Regions from separate parts of the Homo sapiens genome. Here region 1 is linked to region 2. Evidence: fine-mapped expression QTL. A gene starts in region 2. The other region holds a variant in brackets. All regions are shown on one strand. Distances are from middle to middle. Region 1 overlaps TXNDC16 (thioredoxin domain containing 16). Region 2 holds the start of TXNDC16 (thioredoxin domain containing 16).

Region 1 (12,546 bases), 110 kb before region 2:
ACTTTGGGAAGCCAAGATGGGAGGACAGCTTGGCCCCAGGAGTTCAAAACCAGCCTGGGCAACATAGTGGTAGCCCTTCTCTACAAAAAATCAAAAAATAAAAATAAATTAGCTGGGCATGGTGGCACGTGCCTGTAGTTCCAGCTACTCGGGAGGTTGAGGCGGAAGGTACACTTGAGCCCAGATGGTTGAGGCTGCAATGAGCCGTGATTACACCACTGCACTCAAACCTGGATGAGAGAGTGTGACACTGTCTCAACAACAACAAAGAGTCCAGTTTAAAGTGTAGCATGTAGCAAATATTATATTTAACAATAGTTATTTTTTAAGGTCAACACTGCGGCCTAGCGGTCTGAGACTATGACAAAATGCCTGAAACATCCCAATTCTGCTAATTACTTGCTGAGGGAACTCTACAAAGATCTTAATGTTTTCAACTGCAAATAAAACTGTAATAATGTATGGGTAATAAATACATTATTCATCAAATCAGTAATGATAATAAATAATACTAATTAACATTTATTGAGCCTTTACTATACACATGCACTATTCATTTTATCTTTACAATTTTATAGACGAGAACACTAAAGCATACAAATATCAGGGAACTGGGCCAAAGTTAAGTGTAAATCTCAAGTAAGAATTGCCAGTGGCCACAGTTTCACAGAAATTAAGATATGCAATAAGTAAGGTGAGGCAGACACCAGTGGCACCATGTTACTGAGTTAGGCTATTTCCAGAATGTTCCTACAACTCATCCGACCCCAACCCCATCTCAGAACACCACTGTTGGCAAAGATCTATCTAACAGAGATGCTGAGAGCAGGCCCTGCTAGCACAGAAGGCAGAATCCAATACACAGAGACTGTTCAGTTTTCTTTTTCCTGCTGCAGAGGCTACAGGATTAATTTAAGAATAGGAGCAGTGATGCATAGAAATGATGGAAACCCGTAAAGAATGAGCTGGCAAAGATGTTAACAAAATTGCAATAGAAGACACGCCAGTCTCTCAGAAAACTCAGAAGTATAACGTTGATTCTTTCCTCTGGGTAATGGTTTGAGCTGAGGAATCAAAGCCCTCAGGGATGTTCCTTGCAGGAAAGGATCTTTACATAGGTGATGATAATACATTAGAGTTTATACTTTACAAAGTGCCTCTGCATTCATTTTTTAATAACTATGTGATGTATTCAGAGTGGAAACTATTAAACTCATTTTATAGTTGTAGAGGAGGAAACCAAGAATGACTTGCCTAGAGCCACATAGTAATCTAGGAAGCTAGGGCAGGAGCTCAGGTTTCTATGTTTTGAACATGTCTGCTTTTTTTTTTTTTTTTTTTTAAGTAATTCTGTTTGAGAAACATTCTAGCCCTAGCTACACATAATCTTGAGTTACAGTCCATGGGAACTCTGTGTCACTGCAGCTACAACATGACAATACTCATTTGCTTCTATAAAATAGCAATGCAGACAGTTAAGTGAACATAGACTTTCTGAGGAGTTTAAGAGCTACAGCTGAAAAGATCCCTATACCATGTGGTGAGAATGAAGTAGTCAAAGATGACTGATAACTACAGAAAGGTCTCCTTCCAGATCCACTTAAACAAAATATTGAATTTAATTAATTAATTCTGTCCCGTTTCCTAGGAAAATATTAAAACCAATAAATTGCCTCAGAAAATTAAGACAAAAATATCATCTAAAGGAACCCAGAATAGCCAAAATTGTCTTGAAAACAAAGAATAGGGCCAGGTGCAGTGGCTCATGCCTGTAATCCCAACACTTTGGGGGGCTGAGGAGGGAGGGTTGCTTGAGGCCAACAGTTCAAGACCAGCCTGGACAACACAGTGAGACCCTGTCTCTACAAAAACAAAAACAAAGACAAAAACAAAAAAATGAAGCCAGGCTTGGTGGTGCATGCATGTAGTCCTAGCTACTTGGAAGGCTGAGGTAGGAGAATCCCTTGAGCCCAGGAGTTCGGGGCTGTAGTGTGTGATGATCGCACCCCTGCACTCCAGCCTTGGTGACAGAGTGAGACCCTGTCTCAAAAAAAATAACAAAATGAAATAAAAGAAAATGAAAAACAAAGTAGGAGTAATCAAATTTCCCAATTTTAAAATCTACTACAAAGCTACAATAATCAAGACAGTGCAGTACTAGCATAAAGACAGGCACCAAACCATATACATGTATGCTCATAGCAGCATTATTCATAATCGCCATAAGTAAAGGCAACCCAACTGTCCATCAACTAAGGAATAAACAAAATGTGACATATCCTTGCAGTGGAATATTATTCATCCATAAAAAGGAATGAACTACTGGTTCATGCTATAACGTGGTTGATCCTTGAAAACCTTATGATAAGTGAAAGAAGTCAGACATAAGAAGCCACATATTATATGATACCATTTATATGAAATGTCTAGATTAGGCAAATCCATAGAACCATAAAATAGATGAGTGGGTGCCAAAGGGTGGATAGAGGAGAAAATTGAGAGTGACCGCTAATGGGTATGGGGTTTCTTTTTGGGGTGATGAAAATGTTCTGGAATTCAACAATGGTAGTAGTTGCATGATCTTGAGAATGCCTGAAAAAGTACTGAATTGTACACTCTAAAAGGGTGAATTTTATGGTATATTATATTTCAATAAAAATACCATCCATATTTTATTTAAGCATAATATGTTTGTTAAAACTGCTTAACTTGACAGAAATGAAGCAGACCACTTAGGAAGGATGGGTTTGGTGTAATGATTGACCCTAAAATAAATTAAAGTAGCTGATGAAATACATACAAATATACATAATGGTAGATTCATACTATACCTGATAGTTGACATAATATTGAATGAGAATTTGTATACCAGAGTGTATGTGTATATACATACGTACACACATACATACATATTTACATATATACACACACATACAAACCTTATTTCAGGACTCTGTCATGGAACAGTATCAAAATATTATTTTAGGATAGACCATCTAGTATCTAATAAAATCCTTATATAGTACCTAGGAGACTTTTTGTTACATTTCACACTATTTGTTCAATATACTATAATAATCTAGGTTGCTACATGTTTACTTATTTAAACTATAGCTACAGGCCTATTGTTGCCACAACTATGTATAAATGGTTAAGACTCAAATATAAATTAATATATATATCCATACTACAAATATAAATTTTTCTATGTTTTCAGAAAAGTGGATATTATGGCATGTTATAAGCCAGGATAATAGATTCTGGGCCAAGATCTATTTTCTTGTGGTTCAAAATTCTGGCTCTGTCCAAATCAGAAAGGAAGTTAAATTGTTCCTGTTTGCAGGTAGCATGATCTTATATACAGAAAACGCCTAAAGACTCCACAAAAACACCTGTTAGAACTAATCAACAAATTTAGTAAAGTTGCAGGATACAAAATAAACAAACTGGACCTTATCTCACTCTTAACTCAAAAGATATTAAAGACTTAAATGTAAGAACTTAAATTACTAAAAGAAATTATTAGACAAAAACATTATAGAAACTCTCCAGGATATTGGACTGGGCAAAGATTTCTAAATACCCCATAAGCACAAGCAACCAAAGCAAAAATGGACAAATGGGATCACATCAAGTTAAAAAAAAGCTTCTTCACAGCAAAGGAAACAATAAACAATCAACAATGTAAAAAGATAACCCACAGAATGGAATAAAATATTAGCAAACTACCTGTCTGACAAGGGATTAATAGCCAGAGAATATAAGGAGCTCAAACTACTATGGGGAAAAAAACAACTAATAATCTGATTTAAAAATTGGCAAAAGATCTGAATAGACACTTCTGAAAAGAAGACATTCAAACGGAAAATAGGTCTATGAAAACAGATATTTCTCTGATCATCAGAGAAAAGCAAATCAAACCTACAATGAGATATCACCTCACCCCAGTTAAAATGGCTTTTATCTCAAACAAAGGCAATAACAAATGCTGACAAGGATGCAGAGGAAAAGGAAGCCTTGTACACTTTGTGGGGCTCAAGACTTCAGTGGAGAAAGTAGCTGCAGATGGGGTATAAATAACAAGAGAACTAGAATTAGAAGTGGTGCCTGAAGGTGAAACTAAATTGCTGCAATCTTATGATGAATCTTGAACGGATGCTTCTCATGAATAAGCAAGGAAAGCGGTTTCTTGAGTTGGAAACTACTGGTGAAAATGCTATGAACATCGTTGAAATGACAGCAATGGATTTAGAATATTCCATAAACTTAGTTGATAAAGCAGCAGCAGCGATTCAAAGGATTGATTCCAATTTTGAAAGAAGTTCTACTGTGAATAAAATGCTATCAAACAGCATCATATACTACAGAGAAATCTTTTGTGAAAAGAAAGGTCAATCAATGCTGCAAACTTCATTGTTGTCTTATTGTAAGAAATTGCCACAGCCCAAACTTCAGCACTTCAGCAACTACCACCTGTCAGTTAGCAGCCATCAGCACAGAGACAAGACCCTCCTTCATCAGCCAAAAGGTTACAATTCCTTGAAAGCTCAGATAATTGTTGGCATTTTTTAGCAATATTTTAAAACTACGGTAAAAACATTTTTTAGACATAATGCTATTACACATTTAATAGACTTCAGTATAGTGTAAACATAACTTTTATATATACTTAGAAACCAAAAAATTTGTATGATTTGCTTTATTTCAATATTTGCTTTATTGTGGTGGTCTCATACTGAACCCTCAATATCTCTGAGGTATGCCTGTACTTAGAACCAGAATTTTATATAACAATAATGCACTATTTGTAAAATATCCTCATTTTCTATAAAACCACATATTTGCTTACAGTTATAAAAAGAAAACAAGCTGGCATGCACATGGAAAAAGCTGCACAAGAAATATCTTCTGAAATCTACAATTTTAAATTTTATAAAAATAGATGAAATACTTATGCTTTGGTAGGCCAAAGCTCCCACTGTAACAACTTTTTTAATGGCATAAATTACCAAAATCATATGTTTGAATACACTGGTGATCTATACAAGTAACATGGACTCAATGAATTAAAATTCAAGAAACAGGCCTTCACAGGGGAGCCGATCACTGACTGAAGCCTTGCACCTTTGGCCTCCCAGTCAGAGACTGTCCACATGGATGATGCTACCAGCATTTTAATAACTCATCCTACCATTCTTTAGCTATATTTAGAGTTTAACATTTATGGAACAAAATGCAGAACTACATGTATTAAACAAAACAGAAAACTTACTGATATGATTTTCTAGTCCTGCTTCTAATTTCTTCAGCCACAATACAAGGTTTTCTTCAATTATAGCCTGGTCTGAAGGAAATGCAAATACTTGGCCACCTGAATGCAGATTCACCAAAACAAGAAGAGGAAGGGGAGGCAGAGGATCAAAATATGCCCTCAAGATTCCTCTCCCCACTGGAGTATTCTTTCTGCAAAAGGGAACAATTGAACATATTAATATTTCTTTCTACAACAAAATAATGAAAATAGTAATTCGTAGAACATTAAACTTTTAAGTAGTATCATGCCAGTAAGTTCACTTTATGAAAAGATGTCCTAAAAACCAAGAAGTCTACGACATGTTATTAGTAACCGGATTCTTTTAAAGTTTCTTTTTAACATGGGGCACTTTGTTTCACTTGGGAGAAAAGCGGCAGCCAATGACAATTTTAATGAAAAGCAGGCATAGCCCAAAGGCTTGTCAATTTAGGCTTGACGCAACCAGTAGTTTCCTTCCAACATTTGGCCAAGTATCTGATCATACATCAGCTCAAAAATTAAATGATTACATAACTAGAAGATAACAAGATACTTATTTTTATAAATACTTCTTTTCCATAGAATTGTGCCTTTTCTCAGGAAAAGGCATTAATTTCAAATTAAAGAAGTAGAAATAATTATGTTCATACAAGGAAACTCTAAGTTAAAGATACTTAGTTTTCCTAATGTAACACATTCTACAGTTTATAAAATACTATTTTACTCTTAGATACCTGTAATGATAATTGCCTGGGAAAATGTTGCCTCAAGCAGTAGAATGCACTGTTAAACTCTTCACAGCAAAAATGTACACTGCCCCATTTCTGTTATTTTTCAAATGATTTTAAAGAATAAATATGTCTTTCATCTGATGAATCTGAACAAGGGGCAGTATATTATTTGTGAATTTTGTTCACAGACATTAAATGTAACACAATCCATACATCTAGAAAACATACTAGGAAATATTGCTGATGAATGCACTGAAATCTGTCTGAACTTTAAAAATATAGAAGTACAGAAAAAGGAACTGAAGGAAAAGTCCAAAAATCACAATGTTTACTATTCTGTATTTGCCAAATTTTCTCAATGGGCATCAATTCCTTTTAAAAAGTAGAACAATTATTTCTTTTAAAATTTTACTGTAGAATAAAATTTAATCTAAAATAAGGTCATCTTGGACCTTGTTTGGGGGAGTTTTGTTACTAAAATATCATGGTGACATATTTGGTTCCATAAAATTAACTCCAAAGAGTTAGAGAGTTTCGTTTCCTAATGAAAATGTAATAATTATTACTTTCTTTACCTCTTACATATTAAAAAATAAACACATACTTACAGATTTAACCAGCATGGAGTAAATGAATCCAAGTATTTCTGCTTTACCAGTGTCAATATTGCTTTTTTATA[C/T]TGAGGATTTACAGTGCCATCACTGAACAAAATCAATAATGGTTTCTGAAGTCTGAAATAACTGGGAAGATTTTCCACAGTGATTTCCGGCTGTCAAAGAAAAGGAATAACAACAATAAAAAATGCATTGGGGATGATAATGCATACCACAGAAGACATTCAAATCACTCAGTCAATTTTAGTTTGTAAAATGTAATTCAAACACATTTTCACTTAAGTAGAGATTTTACTATATTAATAACTATGAATCTCAATCGTCTTATTCAATCCCACCTCATCTGAATGAGTTATTTTCAAAATAAAACTACACAGAATTTGAGAATAAATTAATTTAAAGGAGTCCCCTGTTTTACAAGATGTAACACTTCTAATAATTTATTATGCTAAAGTCTGGACCAGACTAACCAATATACACATGACAATTGTTATATTTTTTCCTCTAACATAACAATTTTGAAGAAAACTGTAAGCTGAAAAAGTATTTTCTTTAACATCTATCATTACTTAATAAATATAAAATTTTACTTTTTCCAATATTATGGTTAAAATCATAATTAAAATAACCAAAAATATGCTAAAACAAATCCAAACACCAATCTTGTTTCTTTTGAGTTTAAAATAACTGAAAGAATTTAATATGAAATTAGAAATCTAATCCTTTTATCATTTTTATTACTAATTAAAAGATAGGAGGCTGGGAGTGATGGCTCACGCCTGTAATCCCAGCACTTTGGGAGGCCGACGCAGGCAGATCGCCTGAGGTCAGGAGTTCGAGACCAGCCTCACCAACATGGCAAAACCCTGTCTCTAATAAAAGTACAAAAATTAGCTGGGTATGGTGGTGCCCGCCTGTAATCCCAGCTACTCTGGAGGGTGAGGCAAGACAATCGCTTGAACCCAGGAGAGGGAGGTTGCAGTGAGCCGAGATTGTTCCACAGCACTTCAGCCTGAGCAACAGAGTGAGACTCTCAAAAAAAAAAAACCCAAAAAACAAAAACAAAAACAAGATAAGGAGGTAATCATTCTCCTGCAATTCGCCCATGCTATGCACATTAAAATAAAATTTTGTATGCCTTTCTCCTATTAATCTGCCTTTTTTCAGTTATTTTCATGGAACCTTCAGAGGACAAAGAGGAAGCTTTCTCTTGGCCACTGCACTCTTTTTATCTTAGAAATACTTCCTTTCTCCACTCACCTCCAACTCAAGGAAGGGCCTAAAATTCTATTATATTAATATTAGCAGTAATGACTGTCTATCCTCTCTCTCTTTCTATTCTCTCTTTCACACCTTTCTGTAATGGGGTAGACTTAAACAGTCACTTGATTACAAGTCAGAATCCCAGGTTCTGGATTCATGGAATTGTCACAGTAATAAAACTTTGAGCAAAGCACTCTGTACCCCAGTTTTTAAATCTGTGAAATGAGGGAATTGAAAGAAAAAAAATAAAAGAGAATAACCATTTTAAAATGTATTTGTAGAAGACAATTTGTCTACGCTGTCAGTAACAAGAATTGGAAAGTGCAACAACAATGCTAATATATTTAGGATTAAAAATAGCAATGACATAGAATAATAAAACCTTCTACCATTTTCAGTTCCACGTCCATTATTTCATCCTCTGGATACACCTGCGAGCTAGATATATCATCCTGTATCAGATAGATAACCCCCAGCTGACATATGGGGAAGCCAACACAGAGACTAACTTGCTTAAGTCACCACGGCTAAGCAGGGGGAAGGAGTGATGGTAGAATCCAGGCATTCTGCTCACCAGTTTCCCCTTTCTTTAGATCGCACTACAAATTCAGATGAACTTGTTTTTAATGGTGTCACCCACCTCTAAATATAGTCCTAGTTCATCCTGAAGTGCCAAATTCTGGCATATAACTTTCCCTTTTCAGTTCTCAGAGCAGCTTGCATTTGCCCATTCTCATTTTTCTTCTAATTATCTCTCTTTCACACTCAAAATCTCCTTCTTACACCTTCCTCTTTCATGGCTTAAATCTTAGATCACTTTTTCTCCAAATTCCCCTATGCTGTCTTCTTGTGTTAGCTTTCATCCTTTAATCTTGTAGTTGAGTTAGATCCCTCTCCTAAATATTGACAGATCTTTTATTGAACAAGCAGAAACATTAGGTGAGACAGAGTCACCACAGCTCAATTCAAACATTTATTGAGGACAAAGTTCAAGATGTTATGCTGGGTGCTGAATCTATAAAGAAATAAGATCCTTTCCTTGCCTTCAAAGAGTTCATACTTTAGAAGAGAAGACAGGTAAGTATACAGACTGCTATAATAAATAAAAAATTTAATGTATGACAATAAGAAAACTTATTGGTTCGAAATTAAACAAGCTAAAAACACAAGGTAGGTGTGATGGTTAATACTAAGTGTCAACTTGATTGGATTGAGGGATGTAAAGTATTGATCCTGGATGTGTCTATGAGGGTGTTGTCAAAGATTAACATTTGAGTCGGTGGGCTGGAAAAGGCAGACCCACCTTAATCTGGGTGGGCACCATCTAATCAGCTGCCAGCACAACTAGAAAAAAACATAAAGCAGACAGAAAAAAGTGTAAAGACTAGACTGGCCTAGTCTCCCAACCTACATCTTCTCCTGTGCTGGATGCTTCCTGCCCTCGAACATCAGACTCTTAAGTTCTTCAGTTTTGGGACTCGAACTGGCTTTCCTTTCTCCTCAGCTTGCAGATGGCCTATTGTGGGACCGTGTGATTTTTATTAGTTAAAACTTAATAAACTCCCTTTTATTATATCTATCCTATTAGTTCTGTCCGTCTAGAGAAACCTGACTAATACAGTAGGGGAGCTCATGGATGATTTTAGGAATTGATATTTGAGCTGGACCCTGGATAAAGAATAAGATCTTGACAGACTGAGGTGTGTGCTTGAGCAGGGATTTCAGACATAGGGAACATCATGAAGATAGGCAGAGAGCTATTAAAGCATACATAATATTTTGGAATAGTGATAATGAAGGATGCCAGAGTTAGGCATGCAAGAGGCAAATATGGCTGTGAGACCAGATGAGTAATGCCTTCATAAGTATTCTAGCTCCTGGGAATACTGAGAAGATTTCTGTATCAGATTGGTGACACAGTTAGGCCTGTTTTTCAAAAGATGACTAACTAGAATATAAATTTGTGAAAAGAAGGACCAGTGGAAGGACCCTACTCTTTCCTATGTCTAGTCAAAAGAGAAAGACCAAGAGATTTGTGAGTTTAGAAGGAAACTGAGTTCTAAAATTAAACACTCGGATTTAGGAATCATCAGCTGGTAGTGATGGTAGAAGTTATGGGTATGGATAAAATTTTCCAAAGAAAAGACATAGCAAAAGAAGAAAAAAAAAGAGTTGAAGATGTAATTCTAGGGAATAAATGAGACAGAGGATGGTCAGATGGACAAAAGAGGACTGAATTACAAAAGCCGGAAGAAAAGAGAATGTTGAGGAGGAATGGTATAGACAACAGTTTTGACTGCTACTGAGACACTAAGGAGAAACACAGTTAAGAGGTCATCAAATGTGGTACTTGGAAGGTGACCTTTGGCTCTCTGAGTATATAACAGACTATAACTGTGTGGGTCCTGGTGTTCTAAACTTGTCAATAATAAAAGCATAAAAAAGGAACTCAGTTTATCTGAGAAAAATACTAAACCCTATTTCCTAACAGGAAACAGTCTTAAATATATCAATGCTTATGTAGTTAATTATTGTGTATTTCAGATTTAAGCATTATTTATCTGGCCCAATTTGTCATCAGGTTCATTAAAATAAAAACTTCATACCATAATAAAAAATCTTCACCCTCTGGTCATCAACTCTCCTTCCTCATCCAGATGAAGGCACTAAAGTCTCTCTAAAGCCTATTTAATCTTTATTATAGCTGTTCAGTATTAAGTTGAACACCACAAATAAAAACATTGGAAACAAACTGTCACAATGCATATTACATTTGTTGTTACTGTAAACAGATTTTGATACTAAGTTTCTCCTACGTTTCTAAGGTTTAATGAATATAATCTTTAAAAAAATTAGAGACCAATTTTTATCCACTAAATATACCAAGATAAAAAGAGTAAAATGATACAAATCTTCTGTCAGGAAATACAAAAGTTATCAGAAGCCTCAAAAGTGGGCCTACTCTTTGGACAACCAATTCAAATTCTAGAAATTTAACCTAAATCCATAATCATAGATACACCCAAAGATTACCTAAAAGGATGTTCCCTGAATTATAAATAAAACAAAAACTAAAGACAGCTTAAACAACCATCAAGAGGAAATGGGCTAAATAAATTTTGGTACATTAGTAAACAATATTATGCAGATGTTAAAAATTAAAATGTGTATCTATAGTACTTGATGGAAATACATTAATATAAAAAGGCACACAGATACATACAGAATTTAGGTTTGGGGAAATGTATTTCCTAACGTAAACTTGGGTAGAAAAGTTATGGTTGATTATAATTTTCTTCTTTATCCTTTCTGTATTACCTGAAAAAGCCAAACAAAGGCTTCTAGTAATTCCAAAAATACTACACTATGTATATGCTAAAGGAATTACTTAATAACATGTCATTAATAACATAAATGTTACTTTAATAAGTAATTTAGAAACATACATCATGAACATATCAATTCAATGATTTGATTATTTATAACCTATAATTTTAACAGGAGGAAAGGACAGAACCAAGACACAAAAAGACTTAATAAAGACTGCAGTCCCTTAGTTGAGCCCAAAATGTAATGTCCTTTAGATCATCAAGACAAAAAACCTAACAGGATATTCATTTAGCATCTATAGCTAATAAAAATGCTCCTTGAGTCACTTCAGAAATGTAGAAAAGTATAAATTCTAGCTATGTTTAATATGAAAGCAAACAACTAAAATCAGGTAACACAGGTTACATTTGTTGTGCCCTTGAATCCACTATTATACAGTCATGCATCGCATGATGTTTCAGTCAACAATGGAGTACATGTAAGATGGTGGTCCCATAAGATTATACCATGTTTTTACTGTACCTTTTCTATGTTTAGATTCACAAATATTTACCATTGTTACAAGAGCCTACAGTATTTAGTAAAGTAACATGCTGTACAGGTTTGTAGCCTAGGAGCAATATGCTATACCTTACAGCGTAGGTACGTAGTAGGCTATACCACCTAGATTTCTGTAAGTACACTCTATATAAAGTTTGTATGATAAAACTGCCTATCGATGCATTTCTCAGAAGATATCCTCGTTAAGTGATGCATGACTGTAAAAGTAAAACATAAGAAAAAGCCTTTCATAAGACAATATTTTTTTCTAAAACTGTACAAATAGGAGAGTGAAGCAAGATGGCAGACTAGAGTACTCTACCAGTCATCCCCTCTTCCCCTGCAATGACTACTGCAATTTAACAACTATCTACACAAAAAAGCACCTTCATAAGAACCAAAAATCAGGTGAGTACTCACAGTACCTGGTTTTAACTTTATATCGCTCAAAGAGGCACTGAAGAGGTAGGAAAAACAGTCTTGAATCATCAATGATACCCTTCTCCCATCCCCTGGCAGTGGCCACACTGCATGAAGAGAGAATCTATGTGTTTGGGAGAGGGAGAGCACAGCAATTGTGAGACTCTGCATTGAACTCAGTGCTGCCCTGTTTTAACAGCAGGCAAAACCAGACTGAACTCAGTGCATGCTCGCCCACAGTGGGTGTATTTAAACCATCTCTAGCCAGAGCAGAAATGCCCATCCTAGAAGTCAGAACTTGAATTACAGCAAGACTTGTCACCTCAGGCTGGAGTGTGCTGGGGCCCAAATAAAC
Region 2 (12,546 bases):
CTGTGTGATGGTTGCTGTTGGTGGTGTTTAACAAGGTATTAAAAGAAAAATACCCAGAGAAGAACTGCCATCCAAAAGACTAGATGTTCAAAACTTAAAACAATCCTTAGGCCCCCACCCGTGCATGGTCACAAAGCAAACTGACAAAACTGCTCAGCCACAGAAAGAGGTCAGAGGCCATATGCTCCAAAGCCAATTTCAGATGTGGCCAAGAGTAACAAAAATGGAAGAACCTCACACAGGGCAAAGCCAAGGACCACGGAGAACTATGCTGTAGGGCATGTGCAGAGTAAAAAGTATTTGTTACTTGTCTAAAATAATGACATAAATACAGAAATGGAATGTAAATGTTTAGAACATTTTATAGCAATTTCACACAGTAATTTTATATTTGTTGAATCTAATAATAATTTTAAAATTGGGCTTGTAAATTGATGTTCTTTATTTCACTTTTCCTGTAATTCATTTCTATTGTGTTAGGAGTGTTGTTGTTGTTTCAACTGGCCTAGAGAACTCAGGGAACAGAACTAGAGCCCTAGCAACAACTGCCTAGAGAGATTTCAACCGTAGATTGCTACAATCTAGAGTCTGGTGTGTGTTTTCCATTCTTCCTCTCTCCAAACAGGAATACTTACAGTTATCTCTCCCAGCACTGCCTTATGTGTTCAACAGGGGGTGGCAGACAGATAACTTCTATCTAGACCAGTAAAGAGATGACCACTGCTGGGCATTACTCAGAGATCCTCAACTTTAGGCTTCACATAGTGAAGATGGTAATTTTGAATTACCTCCACCAGGAAAAGCCAAGGAAGAACTACATATACAAAGGAAAGCATTTGTTGACGAGAGACTGTTCAAATGTTTCTAGTTCTCTGCACGTTAAAATTATACATCTCACTTCCTTGAGTTAGGTATGGCCATGACTTGGCCAATGAAATGTGCAAGGTGACATGTACTTCTGGAAGCTTTTAAGAGTCAGTATACATGTGCAATGAACCACAACACACTTTCCCTCTGCCATGATGACTGATTACACTCAAAATTAGGCCTTGTCTGTCAGCCCAAGTCCCAGAAAGAGAACACCATAGGGGAAAGCTCCCAACTGATCCAGTGTAAACTAAACTATTATGTGACGGTTACTATGGGACTGAACGAAGGCAGAACGAATGTAGAAATGAAAACAAAGACAAAATAATCTGTTTTAAAGAAGGGGTCGGGGGCTCCTTGCTTCTAGTGAGCAAGGGCCTTGAGCTTCCACAACCCTTCATATTTATTGGGTAGCAAGAGCAGGGAGGAGCAGGTAATGGTTGGTCAGCTGCTTGATTTATCACAGGTTCACATGATTGCTAACAGGCTTCAGATGTTCCTGTAGATAATCACAAGAAACACTGCGCCTGGGGTGTGACTGGCCTTAGCATTCCTTCTGGGAGGCAGACGCAGTTTGTCAATTCGCCAACAACCTGCCTTCATGAGAACAGTTTGCTGTTTGCTCATATAGCCTCCAGTGGTATACCGAGTTGGTCACAACCCTCATTCTTTCTGCCTCCAACACTATTAGGCCAGGCACGGTGGCTCACACCTGTAATCCCAGCACTTTGGGAGGCCGAGACGGGTGGATCACCTGAGGTCAGGAGTTCGAGACCAGCCTGGCCAACATGATGAAACCTGTCTCTACCAAAAATACAAAAAATTAGCTGGGCATAGTGGCAGGTACCTGTAATCCCAGCTACTCAGGAGGCTGAGGCAGGAGAATCACTTTAACCCAAGAGGCAGAGGTTGCAGTGAGCCGAGATCACACCATTGCACTCCAGCCTGGGCAACAAGAGCAAAACTCCGTCTCAGAAAAAAATAAAATAAACCATTATTTTAAACTTCTAATGTTTCCGGGTTGTTTCCACAGTATAACCCAGTCTAGCACTATTAGTACACCTGGTCTTAGTAACGGGTAAAGGGATTATGACTTGAACATAAGATGACTCTTTAAAATGCAATTGACTATTACCACAAAAGATGCCAATACTAAAAGACGGGAAAAGTAATAGGTAAATGTTTTCCATAGCATGTTTGCCAATACTACAGATACACCTCCCAACTACATGTAGACTTTGATCCTTTGGGCTGCGAGAGGCCCTCAATTCTTCAGTATAATGGTCCTGCTGGCATGGATCAGAGTTGACATATAAGATGTAACTTTTGTCTCATCCCTAAACTCTGAAGAAGTGTGTTTGCACAGCTCATTTAAATAATAGAAAGAATGAGTGACATGTAACTAAAGACTAATACAAGAGGGTAACAGCACTGTAAGAATGGCTCCGTGAGACAATAGTAGAAAAAGGGCTAAAGCGTGCACATAAAATGTTAAAGGCGACAAAAGTGTGTTTTGTTCAGCAACTGAATATTAAGCTCCAAAAGACATCAAGGAGGAAGTACTTCAAGAGAAAACGCTAGTCTTCTTGTAAGGAGACAGTATGAGGATTTGCCTTTGTGTTCCTTAGGCAGGTAGAACAGCTGGTAGCCCTCGTTAGCTCCACTAATCCCATTTTGGTATAGGGTACTGTATGCAATAGTAATTGACAAACAGTTCTGATTTTTTTTTTTTTTTTTTTGAGACAGAGTCTGAACAGAGTCTCTGTCACCCAGGCTGGAATGCAGTGGTGCAATCTCCACTGACTGCAAGTTCTGCCTCCCCGGTTCATGCCATTCTCCTGTCTCAGCCTCCCAAGTAGCTAGGACTACAGGCGCCCGCCACCACACCTGGCTAATGTTTTGTATTTTTAGTAGAGACGGGGTTTCACTGTGTTAGCCAAGATGGTCTTGATCTCCTGACCTCGTGATCTGCCCACCTTGGCTTCCCAAAGTGCTGGGATTACAGGCGTGAGCCACCATGCCCGACCCAAACAGTTCTGCTTTTAAATGTTTGAAAGACTACTGTGCTAGGGTCATCTGTCCTCTCAGAACAACAATATTAAATCTTTATGCATTTGGACACATTTAAATTTTAGAATAGCTGACACCAAGCTTTTCTAGGAAACCCTTGGTTAGTTCCCCCTTTATAGGCCTAATATTCCCTTATGATTAACCATAAAATTAATGGCTTTTCCTCTCAGAAAAGAAGGAAATTAACAACTGTAACTATTAAATAAATTGTAGCAACATCTGTGGCCATCATACTCAGGAAAAAGACACACTTCATATTTTGCAACAAATGGAGTATATAACGCTTACAAAGTTCCCATAAGAACATTCTGTCTGAAGTCAGCTTACTTACAGTTTAATGCTGCTACTGGAGAACAGAACCTGCTCACTGAACCAGCCTCAAATAAAATGTTGATCAGATCTCAACACAGTTTATCATTTCAGACCCAAGGAGGCAATAAAAGGAGTCAACATCTCTCCCCTTTAGAGCCTTTTCAAAGCAGTTGGGAGGAAAATCCTCTACCTGCACCCTCACCGCCCACCTCTAAACACACACTCCCATCCCCCAAAAAAGAGAAAGGAGGCAGCTATCCAGACTTGCTCTTACTGACACATGGCAGGTGGCAGGTAAGCCTCACAGGCCAAGACCTAAAATTAGTATGGGTACTATCCAGATGTTTACTATCACTTTGAGCAGAGAATAGAGGAGAAAAAGAAAAACCTTTTAAAGTCTATTGATGACTTGAAATGTGCACCTCAATGATTATGGAAGATGCAAATAGGCCATGGCAGAGAATATGTGGCGCCCTTGATTTTGACAAGTGCCTAAAATCACACAACTCTGATTTTATGCTCAATTTAAATACTTAAGCACATTACTGCAATCAATTACATCACTGCTGTCATGAGCATCCTGTCTCCTATTTGAAGAGAATTGTGTACCGCCCTGACCACATTCTCTAAAAATACATGAGATGAACTTCTTAGGTTCCAATAAACATAAAATCCTTCTCCAAAGCATAGATGTTGGATTAGGCCTGTTAACTTCTTAGAGCAAGCCGTACCCTCTCATACACTGCACTCTCTACCTGCTCAGCTGAACGTTTCATCTGAGGGATGTCTAGGTAACAGTGCTAGGCCTGTACATCTACCACAGTTTGTCAGCATACCTATAAAGAACTCAAACCACACTAGCATCTGGTACCTGGACAAACGACTGTCCCAGAATCTACAAAATAGACTTTAAAGTTCCCTGTGGAATACTTAGCTAGGAAAAAAGACAGCAACACTCTTCTTGGGCAAAGCATATGACAAAGGCCAGCCTGGACAATATAGTGAAACCTCGTCTCTACCAAAAAAAAAAAAAAAATCAGCCGGGCATGGTGGCTCCAGTGCCTGTAGTCCCAGCTACTTGGGAGGCTGAGGTGGGAGGACTGCTTGTGCCCAGGAGGTGGAGGTTTGTAGTGAACTGTCACTACAGCCTGGGCGACAGAGCGAGACCCTGCATGAAAAAAAGGAAAAAAAAAAAAAAAAGCATAGGACAAAGGATGGTGAGGTAAGAAAAGCTGGGTCTTTGTTGCTCCAATAAACGTAGCAATGTCTTTCACAAGGATACTGAATTCGTAATGTGCTGTGTATTCTAAAGAAAACAAATTATTTCCTTTTAATTTTGCACTACTTGCTAATCTTATTTCCAAATAGGAAAAAAAAAAGTCAACAACTATGTGCCGGCCCAATATACGTTAGTCGATCTGATTATTCCTCGGTTCTTCACAGCAGTAACACAGCATGTATTTTCTCTCTCAGGCCCAGGAATAGCGCCACCATCTACCATACACAGGTCCAAGGCTTCGATACATGTGGAATTTAAACAGTACAGAATATTCTACTTCCTCTCCAGGCAATCATCATACTTACAAGTCTGTTTCTGCCTTTTTCCCAAAACTTAAGCCCAGAGCATCTTCCCAAATTCTACGTTTGAAAGAACCAGCTTCCCCCTGCTCACAGATCGCTTCAACATCCATCTGATACTACTACTACTCTTCCTTAAGAGACATTTCCCTTGGCCTTGGGAGGAAAGGGTCTTTCACTTAAGAGCTCCGATTCTCCCCGTCGCCCCTTTCCATCCCCTCGACCCACAAAGGGCTCCGGTGTTTCCCGCCGTTCATGCAGCGAAAAGAGAAAGCAAAATGCCCTCAGGAGGCTCCAGGTGAGGCCCTTCGGTGCCCCAGAGACGGGTGTCTTAAGTCAGACTCCGGAGCTGTGCAGTGCAGCCCTGGCTACAGAAAGCTGCTTCGTCTGAATCCCCGGGTCTGCAGGCAGAGCCCACAGCCTGAAGGGCCAGCGCTGTCACCTACCTGCCCGGGACCTGCGGGCGGGGACCTGGGCCGTTCCCGAGGCCGCGCGGCCAACAGTTCCCGCCGCCACGCGACGGAGGAGGAGGCAGAAGACGGGGCCGTGCCAGACTAGCCGGGTAGCCTGGAACCACTTCGCCAACCTGCAAAGGCGTAGCACTTCTCCCTCCCAGCCTGCAGCCGCCACCGACTCGGCGGAGTCGGCCTCCTGGGAAAAAACAACCTGCGAAGCTCCTCCTTCTCCTCGTGCTCCCTACGCGAGGCACTCTCTAACCAATGGGAAACGTGGTGGGCGGAGCGAGAGTGACAGACGATTACAGAGTCCTCCCGCCGGCGCGAACGGGCGGTGCAGTAGCAGGGCCAATCAGCAGCGTGGGTGGGAAGTACAGGGGCGGGAGAAAGTAGGGAAATTACGCGCCCAATCAGATCTCGGGGCCCTCGAGCGACGGGTCCTGCGGCCCGTGGCCTTCCGAGCGCGGCGCTCAGGGGGCGTGCCTGCCTGGGCCAATCGGCGCGAGCCCACAGTGCGGAGCGAGCGCCTCAAATGCTCGGGTTTCTCAGCTGATTGTCTCCAGCCGAGAGTTGTTTTTTGCAGCTACGGAGCCGAGCCGCAGCAGGAGGAGCCGAGACCCCCGGGGGGTGGGGGGAAAGAGGAGGCGGGGTCCGGGGGAGCCGCGGCTGCTTTGCGCTGGACTCCGGGTCCCGTCACGGCGCTTCCTGGGGTTAGAGGCTGGGGTGGGTGGGGGGTAAGGGGGCAGTCCTTCTCCCCTTCGACGGCGGCTCCGAGTCCAGCCCCTTCCTTCCCGCGCTCGCTCGCCCGGCCCCCAGCCCCCTCATGAGGGTGTCCGTGCCGGGTCCGGCGGCCGCTGCCGCCCCCGCAGCCGGCCGCGAGCCCTCCACGCCCGGCGGGGGCAGCGGAGGCGGAGGCGCCGTCGCTGCAGCCTCAGGCGCCGCGGTGCCGGGCTCCGTGCAGTTGGCGCTGAGCGTCCTGCACGCCCTGCTCTACGCCGCGCTGTTCGCCTTTGCCTACCTGCAGCTGTGGCGGCTGCTCCTGTACCGCGAGCGGCGGCTGAGTTACCAGAGCCTCTGCCTCTTCCTCTGTCTCCTGTGGGCAGCGCTCAGGACCACCCTCTTCTCCGCCGCCTTCTCGCTCAGCGGCTCCCTGCCCTTGCTCCGGCCGCCCGCTCACCTGCACTTCTTCCCCCACTGGCTGCTCTACTGCTTCCCCTCCTGTCTCCAGTTCTCCACGCTCTGTCTCCTCAACCTCTACCTGGCGGAGGTAAGGCGGGAGGGCCGGCATGCGGGGCCCGGGCGGGTGCGCGGGGCCGCCGGGATCAACTCCCGCTGAGGACCAGCGGGGGCGGGGGGTGGGCAGCGAGAGGCGGACTGGAAACCAGCCTGGGGAAACTGAGGCACACCTGGAGTGTGAGCCAGTGTTTTCGCCTTAAACTTAAGTGGCTGATTGGCTTGATTACTGAGGGGTTCGGGCTAGGGGGTGAGTGAGTGAGTGTGTGTGTCTGACAACTTAAAACAGCAACGGAACGAACCCTTTGTTCGGTGTTCTGGCCCTCCGAGGTAAGGCGTTGGTGGCACCAACAAAGTGGCATCGCAAGAAGTAGCAGCCCCGGTGGCTCTGCCGAAGCCGGACTGTGTTGAGGGAGGTTGGATGCTGAGGTAGCAGCAGCTCTGCTGAAGCTGGACTGCTGCCAGCCATTACGTCACCAGGCAGAGCTGTTCCTCTGCTATTGTTGCTGCGTTTCTTTTATTAGAAGCTTATATTCCCTCCTGCATCTCCTTTCCTGTGGCTCGATAAGCCTCACATAAATTTCGTTCGATAGTTCCCCAGCAGGGTTGATGATCAATAACCAATGCTGAGGATCAGGATAAGGACCTCCATAAAGCCCTTAATGTTTGCCCCAGTTGCTTCGTGCTTTAGCGGTTTATCCTACCTCCTATTAGCATAGTCTTTTTTGGAGCTAATTAAGAGAAAAAAATACTAGCTTAACCTGTGCCTATTGCAGAAACAAAACCACCAAACTGTTTTTGCAATAACTTGCTTAATATCTGGAACCTAATCACACCCCCTTTCTCTTTTATGGGGAATTGCTGGTTGGATTGCATTGTTCTGCAGCGCTTAGGTATTTGACCCATTTCAAACAGGTTTGGGAGTGTAAGGTTGTCAATCATGTGTGTCAGCTTGTGGTATTTAAGCCATAATATTTTAAGACTTTCCCCCAAAAAAGTCCTCCTTCCCACCAAAAGAAAAGCTTGAGGAGGGGAGGAAGCAAGGTGACATCATATGCTTAATACAGACTAATATAGAATAATATTGGCCTATGCAGCTAATCCTCTCAAAGGCTTTTTTGGAGGTGATGGAATTAATGTAGTTCCAAGCAAAAGTAAAAAAAAAAAAAATGACGTATATTAAGTGTTTATATTTCCTGCATAAACCAACTCTTTTCTCCTTTAATAGGAAGTAGAATGCATAATTTTATAATCAGTCATAATGTCAGCTATTTAGCACACTAAAAACAATAGTTGAAAACAACAAAACTAATTTAACTTTTATTATTTTCCTTCTCCATCCTTTGAAAGTCCAAACAATACAATGACAAAAACGCAAACCAGTAAGCGGAAATAAGAAGCATAGGTTATCACAAATCAAATGATGCCATAGTCGTGTCACTTATTTGAGGGTGTTCTAATCTAGTTGTCGTTTAAGCTGTTATAACACTTCTACCCTTTATACTTAAACTGATACATTGTAATCTTCCTGCCACCATTTCAGATAGTGCGTTAGTGACTTCTCAACGCTGAAGCTTTTACTCCAGGTTCAGATGTTTACCTGAAAGTGACTAGCGATTTTTATGCCAGGGGCATCAGATGACTTGTTTTTTCCCTATATATTTTGATTTACAAAATAATATGAATGATTCACTGTAAAATAGTTGGTAGGCATTTCATAAAGTGGGTAAACACTCTTTTTACTTCTTGAGGTATAACATATACAATAAAGTCCACAATCTTAAATGCACACCTAGATGAAATTTTATATCTGTATACACCCATGTTACCACCACCCAGATTAAGATATAAAGCATTTTCCGTGTCCCAGAAGTTTCCCTTTTTACCCTCTCCCAGTCAGTAGCTCCCCCAGGTAAGCACAAAGTGGGTAAACACTATCCAAAAAAGGAGATATATTTAAGCTCAAAATTCTGAAGGTATGCTTATATAGCATAGAATACACGGAGTATCTAGATTGGGTCTTCAGACTTTGAGCTAATATTCCAAGCTAGTGAGGAAGAATTTAAAATCTGAAAGTCTTCCTGTTAAATGTTTGTGTAATATGCTTTTTTAAAAACGATAAAACTCTATTAACCTGAAAAATACAATTTGGAAAGAAGCTGGGATAAAGCTTTTTTCCTTTGTAATGCCTGCTAAAAAGAGTGTGAGTTGTTTGTCTATCCTTTCTTTTTATAATGAAATTAACAATTTTAGGACACAGTTGTACTTAAGAGAACAAATTGTCAATTTTTTGAAAGCCTGTTTGAAAGGAGATATCTTAACCAGAAATCATTTCTCTTTTCATTAGAGAAAATCTCCAGGAACCTGTATTTAAGAGAGTATTTTAGTTCAAATTTTTATGTCAGTTCCAGATAACTGCAAGTATACTTCCCATTGATCATTCTGAATTAATGAAGTTTTTCCTAGTGAGTTCTTCATATTATAGCAAAGTGGTAGGGAAAGCCTATGTGGTGATAAATATAAGACTTAACTGATGTTTAATTTTTTTAACCAAAAGCCCCTATAACTTTTTTGAATAGTCGTGTGTCTTGATTACCAACTCACTCTGTCTTTGCTGTATGCCGTATTAAATACCAATTCCATATTACTTTTCACTTGTTTAAAGCATTTGTTTTTTTCTGATTCTCACTAAGAGTAGCTTTAAGGACTTAGTTATAAAGAATCGTGGATCAGTATAAAAAGTAAAACAAACTCTACTACTTTGAATACATTTTGGTGGATATTCTAAAACTCATGTTTTTGAAAAGTTAAGAAATGCCTCAACCCCTTTTTTCTTTTTTTTTTTTTCTTGGTGTCTACACTTGAATGGAATTGAGATGAGGGAAAGTAGCCCTTTCTTAAACAGTTAAGCTTCTCAGTGTCTCATACTTAACCTCCTGGAAGCCTATAGTTGAGAGAGAGGGGGAAAAAAAAAAGAAAAGCCACCTTGTACACTAATCTAAAAACACATTTTGAACTTCTGGCAGGATCAGTAGGACAAGAGCTTTTCCAGAGAAGGGTTCACACTCCTGGAGTTTTACCGGAGAAGACTTCAATATTTGAAACAGACTATCTGATAAAACTGATTCTATCTACCATTAGAACATATTGAAGGACTTAAAAGGAGAATTGACAGCATCACACAATATATCCATGTAAGAAACCTGCACATGAACCTCCTGAATCTAAATTTTTTTTTTTAATGAGAGTTGATGGTATACCATCTTGGAGTGTTGTGATGCATGCCAAAATCAATGAGTTCATCTTCAACATATTGAAGTTCTTACTTTCAGTTTGGTCTTAGGAGTGCCAGTTGCTTAATCAGGATAAAGTACAGTGACTTAATTACAATGCCAAAACAGATAGGAAAATTAAATTCAAAATCTTAACTCTTACATTTATGGATGCTATTATTGTCCCTACCAGTAGATATATTCTTATATTGGTAATACTTCAAATAACATGCAAGTCAACTTACAGGTTCATTTGATTTTGTTCTGTTCTTTGATTTCCCACAAAAGTTGAAATCACATTTCTACCACCTAAAATAGAAATTCCTTGAGGATAAGAAGGAATATTTTACATATTTTTATCTCCAGCAACTAGAACAATGATGATTATATTATTGAATGACACTTTATAAAAAGGTCAAAATTTAGAAAATAGTTATCTAAAATATGGGGGTTAACTTTATTTTGATGAACATTTGAGGTAAATTATGTATTGTCTGGAATCTATTTTCTGCCTAAAAGATTTCATACAATATAGAGTTTTGTTTAATGAAACTTTTTATATCATGGCAAATGGCCCATACTAATTAAGGCTTTGCTAATTTAGTTTCAACAAATTCTACAAAATAGAAAAGTCTGTAAGATGAGTCTCATATCCTGAGTCAGTTACTGTTTACCAGAAATACTGGTTTAGTTCAATGTTTGACTTTTATCCATAACTGACTATAAACTGTTTTTGTCTGAATCTACTAAATTTTTTCACTATCTTGATCTTATTTCTCCTGAAATCATCTGTGAAGCCGAAGTTTCAGATACATACCTGTAACAAAAGACATGATTATAATGCCTTATATTTTATGAAATTGGTATTTTCAAAGCACTTTGTAACATTTGTCTTCACAACCCCCATGAAATAGAAAGAGATGTGATTTGTCCAAAATTAAATGGCTAATATGTATCAGTTGTGATACTATTGTATAGCTCAGGTGCTATGAAGTCTTATCAAGTAATTTGTTTCTATACCATGAACTTTCCTGGATACATCACTTCTTTAATAGTGCTTTTCTAACTTGCTTTCCCGTTTTTCACATGGTTTCAAACCTTTTCCACTGTCTAGCAAACTCTTTCTTCACCTTTCATCCACTGCATATGACTCTTGGTTTAAAGAAGTAGAAGCCAGGTCATCTGGCCTACCAGAGATTCAGAGAAATGCTGCAGAGAGTAGTCAGTCTTTTTCAGTGCATAATTGGGCTGGCAAGAAAAGGCCAGAAACTACCAAAAAAAAAAAAAAATGCAGAATGATAAAATATCACACAAATGTGTGTCTTGGGGGTAGGGCAGGAGTGGTTTTCAGCTGCCTCCTGTTAGCCTACTGCCCAGATTTTAATTTTGTGTGTTGAAGGTGTAGGGAGGTGTCGTTGCAGGCTGTGCCTTGCAGTGAGGTCTTATAAAAGACTTCATCCCCTCCAGCATAATGCCAGAATCCTTTAAGTGTACACCTTCAGTGGATCAGCTAGGAAAATAAGCAGGTCCTCAGAGCTAGATAGGGGGTACAAATTGGTAAATAAGTCTTCCCTGGGAATGCAAAATAAGCTCATTCTTGCACAAGTTTGAAGCCTAAATTCACATCAGTTCTGTGATTGAGAGGAGCAGACTGGGGGGTTTCAGGAGATCTAACTTGAAAACATAAAGTTATCCTTGCTTGATACTAACCTCAAGGAGCTGTAAGAAGCAGATGCAAAGCATCTGTGGAAGAATGTACTTTAAACCCAGACTTCTGACAGATAAAATTCCAAAAAACATGGGTTCAGAATAAAAAATCACACTGGGGAATTGCAGATGTCAGAATTATTAAATACATAGTACACAATAATTAATCATTTATGAATTAAACACTGTTGAAATACAAAAAATTGGCACATTTGGAAATCATTTTTTAATGAAAAAATTAAAAACTGAAATGGATGGTTAAACAGATTAAACACAGTTAAAAAGAAATAAGTGAACTAGAAGATCTTAGGAAAAAAAATCACTCGGGATATAGCCCAGAGAAATAAAAGATGGAAGATACAACCAATGGGTGAAGAGAGAATGAGGATATAATGAGCAGGTCCAACATATGTGTAATTGGAATTATAGAGAAATTATTCAAAGGGAAAATAAGAGTTTACGCAAATTTATTAAAGACATCCAAGTTTCAGATCCAGAAAGCCCAACAAATCCAAGGTGGGCTTTGTGAAAACATATTTAAAGTACACTTGAAAACACTGACCTGGTGCAGTGGCTCACGCCTCTAATCCCAGCACTTTGGGAGGCCAAGGCAGGCAGATACAAGGTCAGGAGATCGAGACCCTCCTGGCTAACATGGTGAAACCCCGTCTCTACTAAAAATATAAAAAATTAGCCCAGCATGGTGGCACGCGCCTGTAGTTCCAGCTACCCGGGAAGAGAGAGAGAAGGCAGGAGAATCATTTGAACCTGGGAGGTGGAAGTTGCAGTGAACCGAGATCACACCACTGCACTCTAGCCTGGCGACAGAGCAAGACTCCATCTCAAAAACAAAAACAAAAAACCTTCAAAATCAATGTGATAAAAGCCATATGTGTAGTGTAAAGCAGAAAATCATATGATCATCTCAATAGATGCAGAAAGAAGAATTTGACAAAATTCAACCATAGATGATTTTTTAAAATTAACTTTTAGTAAATGAGGGAAAAGGGGGAATTTTTTCAGTCTAATAAAAAGCATCTTCAAAAAGCCTA

What was found. PIP is the estimated chance that this variant, and not a neighbour inherited with it, causes the effect. A credible set is the group of variants that fine-mapping cannot tell apart.
Region 1: its variant is the best candidate, but not a certain one, in a credible set for the expression of TXNDC16 in whole blood (TOPMed, PIP 0.52).

The regions. Positions count from the first base shown.
Region 1 is chr14:52,433,932-52,446,477 of GRCh38, forward strand. TXNDC16 (thioredoxin domain containing 16) reads right to left here. Exons shown (of 21, transcript NM_020784.3): 19 at 6,633-6,793; 20 at 5,273-5,463. Among named protein-coding and RNA genes, the nearest start is that of TXNDC16, 110 kb to the right of the region's middle. The variant C/T (reference allele first, on the strand shown) is at 6,704.
Region 2 is chr14:52,547,043-52,559,588 of GRCh38, forward strand. TXNDC16 (thioredoxin domain containing 16) reads right to left here and starts at 5,463. Exons shown (of 21, transcript NM_020784.3): 1 at 5,274-5,463. It overlaps GPR137C (G protein-coupled receptor 137C), which reads left to right and starts at 5,794. Exons shown (of 7, transcript NM_001099652.2): 1 at 5,794-6,549. The coding sequence starts at 6,106. RefSeq lists silencers at 5,984-6,053, 6,064-6,263.